4 linked regions of the Homo sapiens genome follow. The protein of the gene in region 4 purifies or fractionates together with the protein of the main gene of each other region. This does not show direct contact. Each region holds a gene or a part of one and is shown on either strand. Other genes may lie near its edges.

Region 1 (3,701 bases), on a different chromosome or scaffold from region 4:
AATCTTTGTGGGCTCTTTTTTTACCCAACTCTCAAGGTTTGGAACTGTAAACTTTTTTTATTTTCTTTCTGCCTAGGTGACTCATCTATAATTTCATGCACAGTTCATATCTATATGTCCTGATGACTCTCAAATTTATGTTTTCAGTCCAGACTTCTCTTCTGAGTCTCCAGAGTCACATATCCAATAGTCTCTTTGACATCTCTGTTTTAACATTTCAAACTTAACATGTGCACTGTGGAACTCAGTTCCTCTCCCTGTTTTACTTCCAACCAATTTTCTACAACTGTGTTTTTTCCTTTCCATTGCTTAAGCCAGAAATCCTGATTCCTGTCTTTCAACAAGTGTTGTTGATACTCTTCCCCAAAATTGTCTTGAATTGGTCCACTCCTCTCCGTCTCTGCTGCCACAAACCTAGTCCATGCCATCATCAGTTCTTGCCAGGATTGCCATAGCTCTTTCCTAATCAGTGTCTCAGCTTCCCCTTTTGCCTCCATTGAGTCCATTTTTGGTACCATGGCAAGGTATGAATGTAAATTGAAATATATCACTTCTTTATTTGAAACACTTTTATGACTTCTTATTACATTTAGTAATTCCTTATTATGACCTGGTCTTTTATTATGACCTTATTATGATTCCTTTCCAGCCTCATCCTGTTCCCTCTCTACCTCCCCACTTGCTTGCAACTCTTCAGCCAGTGGTCTTTTTAAAGTTCTTTGAGCCCACCTTTCCCCCACCTGCCTCTTTTATGCCTAGAATGCTCTTACCCCAGTTTCTATAGAGGCGGCGTCTTCTCATCATTTAGGCCTTGATGTAACTACCATCTCCTTCTCGGACCATTTTATCTAAAGTATATACTACCATTGCTTTTCCATTTCAACCATTTGTTTGTTTCTTTCATAGCACTTACTAGAGTTCGGATTATTTTATGCATTTATTTTCTTCTATTTGGTCCATCTTCCCCATTAAGGTCTTTGGGGACAGAAACTTTGATTCTCTCATTCCCTACTGGATTCTCAGCACCTAGCACAATACCTGGTGCACAGTTGGTATGCAGCAAGTATTTGTTGAATGAATAAATGAAAAGTGTGAGTCTCACTATGTTCAGTTTTATATGTTTACATGTTTTCTTTTGAGATATTAGCATATCTAGTTTTCTAAATCCAGATCATCCTATATAAAGAAATTCAAGAGAGATGCAAGCTTTGTTAGTGAGAGAGATTAAGATTGCAGACTGAAGAGCATAAATAACAGTAATATCCCCATCTCAAATTCTAACTTTCAACTCCAGTTTTGCTCCCTACGTCACACCTTGGATATGAATTCACATGATCTACATCAGTGCGATGGCTAGGAAAGTATATATTTTTGAAGCAAATGGAGTAACTAGTTAATGTCAGTCACTCTGTTGTTTTATTAGTGATTCACATTCTTCCATGATCCCATAGTTTATATTCGGCTTTTCAACTCTTTCACTTTTCTCCTGCCAAGCATTTTATGTCTCACCCTATCCTTAACATACACACACACACACACACACACACACACACCCCTACCTGTTTTACAGATACTATCCAGTTTTATCATAGAATTGTGTCTCACCCTATCCTTAACACACACACACACACACACACACACACACACACACACACACCCCTACCTGTTTTACAGATACTATCCAATTTTATTATCATAGAATTGTGAATGACCCCTAAACTTTAGTCTGGTCACATAATACCACTTGATTTTCGCCTCAATTACCCCGTTACTGTGTTACTACCTCTGTACCAGCAGCATTGTGCATGTCTTAAGCTCATTGAAGATATGATGAACCATGTGTTATTGTATCGCTTATTCCAAATTAATTGCTCAATAAATGGTGATTAGACAAATGTGAATTACCATCCTGTCTCTGTAGAAAATCAGAAAATGACATTTCATGTAAAATAAGGTTTTGTATTTTATACTTTATCTTGCAGTATATTCTGTTTACTATATTTTTGTTTCCATGAAAAGTTAACACTAATGATGATTTTCTTATAGCAAACTTCTTAGGAATTTAAGATACAAGGAAACAAATTTTGTGCATCCATGTTTCAGATATGATCATTCTGTTTCAAATGACAAAGCCCTGATGGTGCTAACTGAAGAACCATTGCTTTACATTCCTCCACCTCCTTGTCAGCCCCTAATTAACACAACAGAGTCTCTCAGGTGAGTGTTGTAGATTATTGCAGAAACATCTGAGTTGGTTCCCATGTTTAGTTTTGGAACCTAGACAAGTAATTGGTCAAGTTCACTAAGTGACTGAGAGAATCTCTGAATTATTTGTGGATAACTGTAGGCATATTAGTTGTCCAGTTTCTCCACCAACCTCATGGAGATGGTGATGGGTCTATTTTATGTGATAGTTGCTTACTTAAATATGTCTTCTTTAAAAACTACAGAATGAAATTAATATTAAAATTTCATGGTGTTAGGCTTACAGTTGGTAACATTCATAGCAGAAAGTACCTTTTTCTTCCAATTAGGAAGATAATAATTTGTGGGTATGTGATTCTGGAGATACTTTACCGTTAGTACACACTTCTTTATCAATTTTTCCCTTGAATTTTTTTTTCCTGTGATTTTGGACCTTACCCTTAAAACCTCAAAAACTACCTCAGATTTTTTGTGATATGTAGTAATCAACTACAGTTAAACATAGTTTAACATCTTCACAGCTGCTGTAAAAAGTAAGCAAAATAAGGGAAGTTATATATGAGCTATGCTTTTATTTCGTGTGTTGAAAAATTTGAATTTTTTTTTACCCCAGGCAATTGAGTTCATTCTTTTTCTTCTCCCAAAAGAGCATGATTTTCAAGAGGTTTTAATGCATCTATTTGTTGTTAGGGGTCCTATGACTTGTTAAGTTCTCTACAATGTGTCTCAAATGTTTGTGTTTATATAGCCCAAGAACAGAAATAGGAAATACTTTTTATTTTGTTTTGTTTTATTTTATTTTATTTTTAGACAGGGTCTTGCTCTGTTGCTCAGGCTGGTGTGCAGTGGCTGGATCATAGCTCACCGCTTCCCCAAACTCCCAGGCTCAAGTGATCCTCTTGCCTTCGCCTCCTGAGTAGCTGGGACTACAGGCACATGCCACCATGCCCAGTTAATTTTTTAAAAAAATTTTCTGTAGAGACAGGGTCTCACTGTGTTGCGCAGGCTGATCTCAAACTCCTGGGCTCAAGCAGTCTTCCCACCCCAGCCTCCCAAAGTGCTAGGATTACAGGTGTAAGCCACTGTGCCTGGCAAGGAAATACTTTTTTTGGTGGAAAAACCTTAGCATCCAGTGTTTATATTTGGGAGGTATTTAGCTGTAGTTTTCTTTGAAGTTTGAATGCATGGTTGACAGGTTTACCATGTAAAAATGCATGTCTTATTAAAAACAACGTTAAGTGTCAACTTTTTCAAATCAAAAAGCAATATTGAGTCATCAGGCACTTGGAATGCTCTTTGGAACCTACAAATGATTAGATTCATTTCCACCCACAGGGTGAAACATCCATTTCTATGTTTAATTAATTTCTATGTTTAATTAATTAAACTATATTTTATAGGTTAAATCATGAACTTCGAGGATGGGTTCATAGACATGAAGTAGAAAGGACCAAGTCAAGAAGAATGACAAATAATCAACAGAAAACCCGTATTCT
Region 2 (3,701 bases), on a different chromosome or scaffold from region 4:
GCCCAGCACGTGGCTCTGAAAGCAGGCTTGTGGGGCAGTGCTTTTCCCCTTGGGTCCAGGCAGAGTGCAGCTTGGTGGGCACCGTACTGAGAAGTGACCATCATGCTCTCCTGGGGTCTGACTGGGGCCTTGGCCAGAGGGAAGCCCCCAGAATGTAAGCTCCTCGAGGACAGGAGTGCTTGACTGCTGCATTCACTACTGTGTCCCTGCCTCCTAGGGAGGACGCTGCCTGGCCCAACCATTCAGATGGATCGGGTTGGGAAGAGTTTAATGCTGTCTTCCATGTTGTAGCATATGGATTGGTCACTGTGTCCATGGACATAATGTGAAAATTCTCAAGTCCATATGTCTTCCAGGGACTTGTGAAAACTAACCAGGTCATTTTGATCGCAAAATATAGAACAGGAATAAAACCCACACAAAGGGACCTTCACCCACCAAGGGACAGGATTTAAATGCTTAGTATCTCCAGGTCATATGTCTCTCGAACACACCTGGCTTCCACTCAGGTCATTTAGCCGTAACAGCTTTGCAGCTCAGACACGTGTGTTCCCAGTGTACCCAAGTTGACAATCTAACCTCTCCACAGCTTCTCTCTGACAATTGTAAATTAGGAGTTCAGCCAGTCTGGCTTCATCTTCATCATAGAAAAGGCTGCTCTGAGAAAAGGGTCTCCTAAGGCTACTTAACATTGATGTAGACAGGGCTCACCACTCCCTGTGTCCTCAGCTGTCGACCTGTCTTACTGGTGGGACTTCAAGAGGCCATACTTGGGTGCTTCCTGACCCTCTCCTTATTACCAAAGTCAAATGCAGAGCAAGGTTTGAATCCCAACAGGAGCCTCTGGAGCCCATACTCTTGCCACCAAGTTTCCTCTTTGAGAAGAAGGCCCAGCTTCACAGGTCTTTTCTACTGGTGGAGGGAAGAGTGGCGACCCTCCACCAGTTATGGGCTTGAGCATACCCTGTTTCAGTGAGTAGACAAAGCACGGGATGCACATCAAATCTGAGCTTTCCTTTTCTTTTTGGTTTTGGTTCATTGGATATAGATTGCACTTGCGGCTCCGTACACATGGCGTGTGTGTGCACATGTGAAATTCAGGGTATGCGTTCGTGGTCTATATGCAGGTGTACTCTGTGACACCTCTCTGACATGGGAGAAGCTCTCTGTGGGCCTGTGCTTCGTGAGGAACAGAGCAGCTCACAGGGAAAGTCATGGATGAGGGAGGGAGGGGGCAGGGTGCCTGCTGCCCAGCTCTGGGGCAGGCTTATGTGTCAGTGATGATCTGTTACTGAGTCCCAGTCGCACAGCTCTCAGCATCTCCAGCACTGACCATCATCTGCTGCCCTTGTTTCTCTCACAGGACGTGAGCGACAGAATAGAAAAGGAATCCCTGGATGGCCCGATCGTGAAGCAGTTAGAGAGAGGCGGGAGAGCCGTGGTGAAGATGGACTGGCGGGAGAACATCACTGTCCCCCTCCAGACAGGTGATCATGCTGCAGCGTGTGAGAGGGCAGGTTGCAAAAGTCGCTGCCGCCTTTCCAAAAAGTAAACGTGGAAATGGCCGCTCCAGGCTGTTCAGGCCCCACATCCCACCTGTCAGGTTTGAGACTTTCTTGGGTGTGTCCTCTGTGGTTTGGTTACACTGATGTGTGTTTCATTTTTGTTCCCTAGAGTGACAGGTGAGTGATGGTGTCGTGCTCTAGGTGGTCATTTCTGACCTGGGTGTGATCACCAGGTGGGGTTCAGGGGGATACCACCCTTGGGTTGGATGGGAGGATCTGCTCCCATGCCTAGGTGTGGAGTGACCTCACCTTTCAGTCCAACTCCCTAATCCCAGGACCCCATGAATTGTTTTCTTTTAAAATGTATTAGTTTTAAATTTGATTACCCATTGCTTCCCTCAATGTTTTTCTAGACCTGCGTAAATTCAGGACCTATAAAGGTGGTTCTGTCAGAGATCTCCTCCGAGCCATGAGAAATAAGGTAAGCAGTTTGTAAATGCTGGGGAGGAGACCCAGTGGCCATGACATGGACACCTTCCTCCTTTCATCCATTCTTTATAAATCTTTTATCTGTACTGGCATTCTCATCTCTCAGGAGCTAGGCGGCTTCAGCTGGACTTGGCAAACTGCAGGCTGTTGCCTCTCTTACGCTGATTTTCCCTTCAGGGACGTAGGTGCAGGTGAAGCTCCGGGAAGCAGTGCTCTGCGGCCCATGTCCCTCATGGTCTCTGGTCGCTGACTTTTGTGGGGCCCTCTCCCTGTCTGATGCAGCCACTGTGTGTAAACATGTATAAACATACCTCAAATGCGGGGACCCCACTGGGACGGACACTCCAATCTCAGGCGACTTTACTCCTCCTGAGGTGGCCAGGAGTGTCTCCAGGTCCTGACTGTCACAGAAGGCCTGAGCACCCCCTGGACTGGCTGGGCCTTGCTCACTTCAAGGCCTCCTCCTGAGTGAGGGTAGCAGGCGAGATGACGGGGCTGGATTCTTGGATACATAAGCCTTTTTTCTTTTTCTTTACCAAAAACCAACACTCACATTCTGTCTCTTCCTTGCATGATGAAAGGGTGTTTTGCCAACATTTCCCGAGCTTTCTAACCCCTTTCTAATCTCCCGAGCTTTCTAACTCTTTGCAGAAGCACCACTACCGGGAGCTGCCTGCAGAGGTGCGGGAGACGCTGGGGTCCCTCCCCGACGACTTCGTGTGCTACTTCACATCTCGCTTCCCCCACCTCCTCGCACACACCTACCGGGCCATGGAGCTGTGCAGCCACGAGAGACTCTTCCAGCCCTACTACTTCCACGAGCCCCCAGAGCCCCAGCCCCCAGTGACTCCAGACGCCCTCTGAGCGAGGGCGGCCCCTCTGTTCTGGTGGCCCCAGCTGTGACTGAGGGCCTGGTCACCACAATTAGAGCTTGATGCCTCCCGGCTTTGCAGGGAGACCAGGCTTCCCAAACCAAGTGCCTTGAGCTGCCTGCTCTGCAGCCCACAGAGGACAGTGCTGACCCCAGGAAGTGGGAGAAGTGGCCCCTCGTGACCTACAGGGAACTGGGAAGATGCTGGCCCCAAAAGCCTTACGGTCATGATGTCTGCAAAGGAGGGCCTCAGAGACAGCGCGAGTAGCACCCCCAGCCATCTACTGGATAAACTTGCTTCAGACTTTTTAAATTCCTGCTTAATGTCAGTCTACAGGCCTTTCAGGAAGGGAGAGGAGGGAATCGTACATTTTGCTTGCGTGCTGGGACAGCTAGGCTGAGATGCACCAAGTACAGCCTTCACTGGAGACCGGAATTGAGAGGTGGGGGATGCTGAGGAGGGGGAGGACGGAGTTCAGAGGGTGTCGTCCTGCAGTGTGAGATTTCTCATTGATCACAGATGTGCCCAGAGTAGCCCAGGTCACTGTTAACTAGTGTTTCTGCAGAGGCAGCAGGAGCCATGAGCATGAGGTGTGGCATTAGGGACTGGTCAGCTATGCATGCTGGCAGGTGGGGTTGTGTCTGCAGGTCTCAGAAATGAAGAGGCTGCTCTGTTCTGGAGGCAGCCGTGGCCCAGTGCCAGTGGCCAGAACAGTGGCCTTTGGTGGGTGTGTCCCGGGCCATCTCGGGGTGGTGCTCAGGAGCGCCTGGGGCAAGAGGTAAAGAGTTCCCTGGCCTTCAAGGAGAGCAGCGAAGACCCAGACAGGGGCCAGCCT
Region 3 (3,701 bases), on a different chromosome or scaffold from region 4:
AGAGAGTGCCCCACAACACCCCTGTGGGTAAGAATGTCACTCATTTCATCTTGTTCGTCTTACTAATAGGCACAAAAGTACCACAGCCTAGACACTGGTAGTGTTTTATTCTGAGGAAATGGCAAGGATTTCTCCCACAGTAGGATAGTAAAGCAGCAATCATGGATCCGTTTTTCTTCTTTCCTGTCCTTTGTCAAAAGTAACAACATGCTGGGCATGGTGGCTCGTGTCTATAATCCCAGCTCTTTGGGAGGCCAAGGCAGGAGGATCACTTGAGGCCAGGGTTTGAGACCAGCCTGGGCAACATGGTGAAACCCCCATCTCTACAAAAATTACTTTTAAAAATTAGCTGGGTGTGGCCAGGCACGGTGGCTCACGCCTGTAATCCCAGCACTTTGGGAGGCTGAGACGGGCAGATCACCTGAGGTCGGGAGTTTGAGACCAGCCTGACCAACATGGAGAAACCCCTTCTCTACTAAAAATACAAAATTAGCTGGGCATGGTGGCACATGCCTGTAATCCGAACTACTCGGGAGGCTGAGGCGGGAGAATTGCTTGAACCCAGAAGGCGGAGGTTGTGGTGAGCTGAGATTGCACCATTGCACTCCAGCCAGGACAACAAGAGCAAAACTCCGTCTCAAAAAAAAAAAAAAAAAAAATTAGCTTGGCATGGTGGCCTGCACCTGTGGTCCCAGCTACCAGGGAGACTGAAGTGGGAGAATCTCCTGATCCCAGGAGGCAGAGGCTGCAGTGAGCCAGGATTGTGCCATTGCTCTCCAGCCTGGATGACAGAGTGAAACCCAATCTCAAAAAACAAACAAAAAAAAGAGGCTGGGCACGGTAGCTCACGCCTGTAATCCCAGCACTTTGGGAGGCCAAGGCTGGTGGATCACAAGGTCAGAAGTTCAAGACCAGCCTGGCCAAGATGGTGAAACCCCATCTCTACTAAAAATACAAAAATTAGCCAGGCATGGTGGCAGGTGCCTGTAATCCCAGCTACTCGGGAGGCTGAGGCAGAGAGTTGCTTGAACCTGGGAGGCGGAGGTTGCAGTGAGCCGAGATTGTGCCACTGCATTCTAGCCTGGGTGACAGAGCAAGACTGCATCTCAAAAAAAAAAAAAAAAGCAATAAAACAAGTTCGTGCAAGGCTTTTCCACTATAAAGGAATCCTCTTCTCTTTTTTCCCTCTAGATACTTGTGTCCTTTTGTTCCTTTATGTTCATGGTTTTGTGTCTTGGCCACAGCTTTCCAGGCTAAATAACTGTGATTCTTCCTGCATTGATTGATCTGAGATATTTTGCTTACTTATTGGTCTGGAGAAATTTTTTGTAACAGACCTCAAAGCATATCTTGGTTTATTTTAGCCCTGCGGGAGGCAAGAAGCCTACAAACTGCTACTTCTGGACACTGACTGTTGATGATATGATGCTTTCTCTTGATTGATGGTTCTCCTGTCTTCATTCTCCAGATGTGACTCCCTGCATGTCTCCTCTGCCACATGACAGTCCTTTAATAGAGAAGCCAGGCTTGGGGCAGATAGAGGAAGAGAATGAAGGGGCAGGATTTAAAGCACTTCCTGGTAAGGGATTAAACATTTGTAAAGTATTTGCATCCTCCCTTTCCATATCATACCCTATTTTACAGCTATCCCCTACTGACCCTACCTTAGCATGTAAATGGGCTTGCTTTCTGTAGCATCTCATGTTTTGAAGTCTCCTCACCTTCACATGGCACAGATAGCAGCTATTCCTTGGTTTAGTTTTAGCATGGGTAATGACTGGTGAATGTTCTTCAGCACTTTAAACACCAAGTGCAGACAAAGTTTAGATAGCAGCTATTCCTTGGTTTAGTTTTAGCATGGGTAATGACTGGTGAATGTTCCTCAGCACTTTAAACACCCAGTGCAGATAAGGTTCGTGTGTCTTTCAGATTCTATGGTGTCAGTAAAGAGGAAGGCTGAGAACATTGCTTCTGTGGAGGAAGCAGAAGAAGACCTGAGTGGGACCCAGTTTGTGTGTGAGACAGTAATCCGATCCCTTACCTTGGATGCTGCCCCAGACCACAACCCTCCTTGCAGACAGAAGTCCTTGCAGAGTGAGTGTCCTTGCATTTCCCCTACCTAGCAGGGTGGCACCTGAATTGTGACTGCCAGACTTGACTAGTTAGATGTGCTCTTCTTCACTGAGACTGAAGGGAGAGTGATCTTAGTTAGAAGTTCTGATCTTGGCGGGGCGTGGTGGCTCAAGCCTGTAATCCCAGCACTTTGGGAGGCCAAGGCAGGCGGATCACAAGGTCAGGAGATCAAGTCCATCCTGGCTAACATGGTGAAATCCCATCTCTACTAAAAATACAAAAAATTAGCCTGGCGACGTGGCGGGTGCCTGTAGTCCCAGCTACTCGGGAGGCTGAGGCAGGAGAATGGCATGAACCCGGGAGGCGGAGCTTGCAGTGAGCCAAGATTGCGCCACTGCACTCTAGCCTGGGCGACAAAGCGAGACTCCATCTCAAAAAAAAAAAAAGAAATTCTGATCTTGTTTGTGTCTTTAGACTCTACGTATGCTACCTGACTGTTCTAATTAGAGCATCAGGAGTAAAGAAGCCATCATACTCATTTCTCCATCTTCTCAGGGGCAGAATTACAGCTGCATTCCACAGTGGAATAGCAGCCAGTTGTGCTGCCTGGATTCTGCAGTAAGGAATCTTCCTGTAATTTGACAGAGCTCCTTAGCAGAGACCCCTATGGGTAGCTGAGTTGTCTGCTTTCTCCAAGGGCAGCAGTCCCAGAAACAGTGGATAGAAGCAGGAGTACCAACAAAGTTTCTCAAGGTTAAATTCTGCTGTAATAAATACCTTTATAGGCCGGGCACAGTGGCTCACCCTTGTAATCCTAGCACTTTATGAGGCTGAGGCGGGTGGATCACCTGAGGTTGGGAGTTCGAGACCAGCCTGACCGACATGGAGAAACCCCATCTCTACTAAAAATACTAAAAATTAGCCAGGTGTGGTGGCTACATGCCAAGGATTACATGCCTGTAATCCCAGGTACTTGGGAGGCTGAGGCAGGAGAATCACTTTAACCCGGGAGGCGAAGGCTGTGGTTAGCCGAGATGGCGCCATTGCACTCCAGCCTGGCAACAAGAGTGAAACTCCGTCTCAAAAAAAAAAAAAGGAATAAATACCTTTATAACAGAAACTTCTAGGTATCAGATAGATAGAACCAATAGCATATATTTTAAGAAGTATCCAAAAATTCAAATATACTATGTCAAAATAATATTGGAGAATCTCTTTATTATAATCAAATTTGACCTATATCTTTAAATATTATTTATCTTACTTTTGTTTAAAGTATACATGTAAGGCCAGGCGCAGTGGCTCACGCCTGTAATCCCAGCACTTTGTGAGGCCGAGGCGGACAGATCACAAGCTCAGGAGTTTGAGACCAGCCTGACCAACATGGAGAAACCCCATTTCTACTAAAAATACAAAAATTAGCTGGGCGTGGTAGCGTGTGCCTGTGATCCAGCTACTCAAGACGCTGAGGCAGGAGAACTGCTTGAACCCGGGAAGCCAAGGTTGCAGTGAGCTGAGATCGCACCACTGCACTCCAGCCTGGGTGACAGAGCGAGACTCCGTCTAAAAAAAAAAAATAATAAAGTGTACATGTGGCCAGGTGCGGTGGCTCATACCTGTAATCCCAG
Region 4 (2,953 bases):
ACAGAGAGAGAGAGAGAGGGAGGGAGGGAGGCAGGGAGGGAGGAAGGAAGGAAGGAAAGAAGGAAGGAAGGAAATATAAGACGAAAGTTCAATGAAGACAGAAAATGTAATTGCGTGGATTTGGGAATAGAGGGGATGATTAAGTCCCTGAGGCTCAGTGGGATTGCCAGAAGAGAAACTAGAAAGACAGACATCATATATAGATTTAGAGAACATACTTAAACTTCAGAAGGAGTAAGAAGACACACAGGAAAAATATGGGACTATGTAAAGAAGTAAAATTCTATGATTTATAATTTACACAGAACAGACAATTTCTGACAGAAATTGTAGTGAAAGCATTCCATATAAACCCTTTTTTGTTTTAAGAAATATCTACTTGCAGAATTAGGTTTCTGAACCAGCCTTAATATTAGTGGAAACTAAAGACATTGGAGCCTACCTTCTGTCTGCTCAGATGTTGACATGTTAGCCAATAGGAATTTCTAAGGAGTATTCTACTTCTAATGAAGATGTTGTATTTTGTAGGAAAAGCTCAAGACTGTTATTTTATGAAGCTGCATCACTGTCCTGGAAATCACAGTTGGGATAGCACCATTTCTGGATCTCAAAGGGCTGCATTCTGTGATCACAAGACCACTCCATGCTCTTCAGCAATAATAAATCCACTCTCAACTGCAGGAAACTCAGGTAAATATTTACTGTGAAACACCTTGTAAGTGATGCCATTGACCTTACATATCTGTGTTCAGTGGATTTACCATACAATGAGGTTTGTCTTTATTTCCTCAATATGATAAATACATACCTTCTTAAGTAGGAAAACAAATCCCAGGAGATGGGAATGATGACATGGCCCAAATGGTATTCTATGAACATCTAAATAGGGAGGCAGTGCTAAGAGGAGGTATTAACATATTACTAATGGTAAAGTTATTTTTGTTTATTTAAAAAATTTGCAGGTATCTTTTATATTTGAAATAAAATGGACATCAAACAAAACTGAACAAATCCCAGAAGATGGAAATGATGACATAAAGTGGTTTTTGCCCCGTGATTTATACCATAGGAAAAGGCAATGCCTTTTCTGGGGAGTGAGGGGGAGATAACCCAAATCTCTGAATGTTTCCTGAAAAATGACACCATTCCCCAAAGTGTTGGTGTTCCATATTGGCACAATCATAGGAAAATTATGTTTTATGCTTTATTTATTTTTCATGGAATTTTACTTATTGCTATGTATCTGTCCTCACCTTTTAAATTATTCATTCCTTGTTCTTTTTCAGAACGTCTGCAGCCTGGTATAGCCCAGCAGTGGATCCAGAGCAAAAGGGAAGACATTGTGAACCAAATGACAGAAGCCTGCCTTAACCAGTCGCTAGATGCCCTTCTGTCCAGGGACTTGATCATGAAAGAGGACTATGAACTTGTTAGTACCAAGCCTACAAGGACCTCAAAAGTCAGACAATTACTAGACACTACTGACATCCAAGGAGAAGAATTTGCCAAAGTTATAGTACAAAAATTGAAAGATAACAAACAAATGGGTCTTCAGCCTTACCCGGAAATACTTGTGGTTTCTAGATCACCATCTTTAAATTTACTTCAAAATAAAAGCATGTAAGTGACTGTTTTTCAAGAAGAAATGTGTTTCATAAAAGGATATTTATATCTCTGTTGCTTTGACTTTTTTTATATAAAATCCGTGAGTATTAAAGCTTTATTGAAGGTTCTTTGGGTAAATATTAGTCTCCCTCCATGACACTGCAGTATTTTTTTTAATTAATACAAGTAAAAAGTTTGAATTTTGCTACATAGTTCAATTTTTATGTCTCTTTTGTTAACAGAAACCACTTTTAAAGGATAGTAATTATTCTTGTTTATAACAGTGCCTTAAGGTATGATGTATTTCTGATGGAAGCCATTTTCACATTCATGTTCTTCATGGATTATTTGTTACTTGTCTAAGATGCAATTTGATTTTATGAAGTATATACCCTTTACCCACCAGAGACAGTACAGAATCCCTGCCCTAAAATCCCAGGCTTAATTGCCCTACAAAGGGTTATTAATTTAAAACTCCATTATTAGGATTACATTTTAAAGTTTTATTTATGAATTCCCTTTAAAAATGATATTTCAAAGGTAAAACAATACAATATAAAGAAAAAAATAAATATATTAATACCGGCTTCCTGTCCCCATTTTTAACCTCAGCCTTCCCTACTGTCACCAACAACCAAGCTAAATAAAGTCAACAGCCTGATGTGTATCTTTCTGTCCCTTTCTTCCTGCTTATATTTAGAACATATGCTCATTTGAGAAAGGATCTTTCTGCATATTATTATTATAATTATACATCATACTGCAACCTGCTTTTTGCATTTAATAGTACAGCCTTCCAGATCAGATATGGCTCTAACTTACTCTTTTTACTTGCTGCCTAATACCCACAGTTTTTATTTTCTTAACTTGTCCATATCAAATTTAGCCCAAACAATAAAAGTACGGTGTGAGCACTTTTTTGGTTAATAGGTTATATTACTATAGGAGAACTTACAAGGAATAATAGCCCTTTTCTGAAACTGCGTAGCGAAGTCAGCAGAAAGTGAGATACAGAATAAATTTGAAAAGATGAACTTTCAAGAAGCAACAGACCCACAACCTGAAAAGTTTGAATAAAAGAAATTAGATGCCATTGAGGTAATTAAATATTAATTAGAAATATAAGCATTTTAATCTCCATTTTAGAGCTTGACATTAACTTGTACCTCTTACTGTGCCTTTCAGAAATATGGAAATTAATAGGGAAAAGTGAAAACTAAACACATGAGTTATCTATTAAATTTTAAAAAGCATTAAGATGCAAATTTTATTTGTGAAGTAATAAATAGAGAAAATTATTTTGGAAGCTTTCCCTTTTCTCTATACATACTCTAAAAAGAAATTATTT

What was found. The genes of interacting proteins can lie anywhere in the genome.
Region 1: the proteins of RIPK2 (region 4) and ATF6 purify together in Homo sapiens (affinity purification with western blotting; one study listed by BioGRID). This does not show direct contact.
Region 2: the proteins of RIPK2 (region 4) and ERN1 purify together in Homo sapiens (affinity purification with western blotting, with the first as the bait; one study listed by BioGRID). This does not show direct contact.
Region 3: the proteins of RIPK2 (region 4) and NBR1 purify together in Homo sapiens (affinity purification with western blotting, with the first as the bait; one study listed by BioGRID). This does not show direct contact.

Annotation. Positions count from the first base shown.
Region 1 is NC_000001.11:161,849,619-161,853,319, forward strand, and holds part of ATF6 (cyclic AMP-dependent transcription factor ATF-6 alpha), read left to right. Parts: intron 1-2,046; coding exon of another isoform or gene 2,047-2,103; coding exon 2,104-2,217; intron 2,218-3,605; coding exon 3,606-3,701.
Region 2 is NC_000017.11:64,043,145-64,046,845, reverse strand, and holds part of ERN1 (serine/threonine-protein kinase/endoribonuclease IRE1 precursor), read left to right. Parts: intron 1-1,363; coding exon 1,364-1,487; intron 1,488-1,918; coding exon 1,919-1,986; intron 1,987-2,645; coding exon 2,646-2,858; 3' UTR 2,859-3,701. UniProt on the Homo sapiens protein: Serine/threonine-protein kinase and endoribonuclease that acts as a key sensor for the endoplasmic reticulum unfolded protein response (UPR).
Region 3 is NC_000017.11:43,195,013-43,198,713, forward strand, and holds part of NBR1 (next to BRCA1 gene 1 protein), read left to right. Parts: coding exon 1-27; intron 28-1,468; coding exon 1,469-1,579; intron 1,580-1,929; coding exon 1,930-2,094; intron 2,095-3,701. UniProt on the Homo sapiens protein: Ubiquitin-binding autophagy adapter that participates in different processes including host defense or intracellular homeostasis.
Region 4 is NC_000008.11:89,788,793-89,791,745, forward strand, and holds the end of RIPK2 (receptor-interacting serine/threonine-protein kinase 2), read left to right. Parts: intron 1-528; coding exon 529-690; intron 691-1,286; coding exon 1,287-1,624; 3' UTR 1,625-2,272; downstream 2,273-2,953.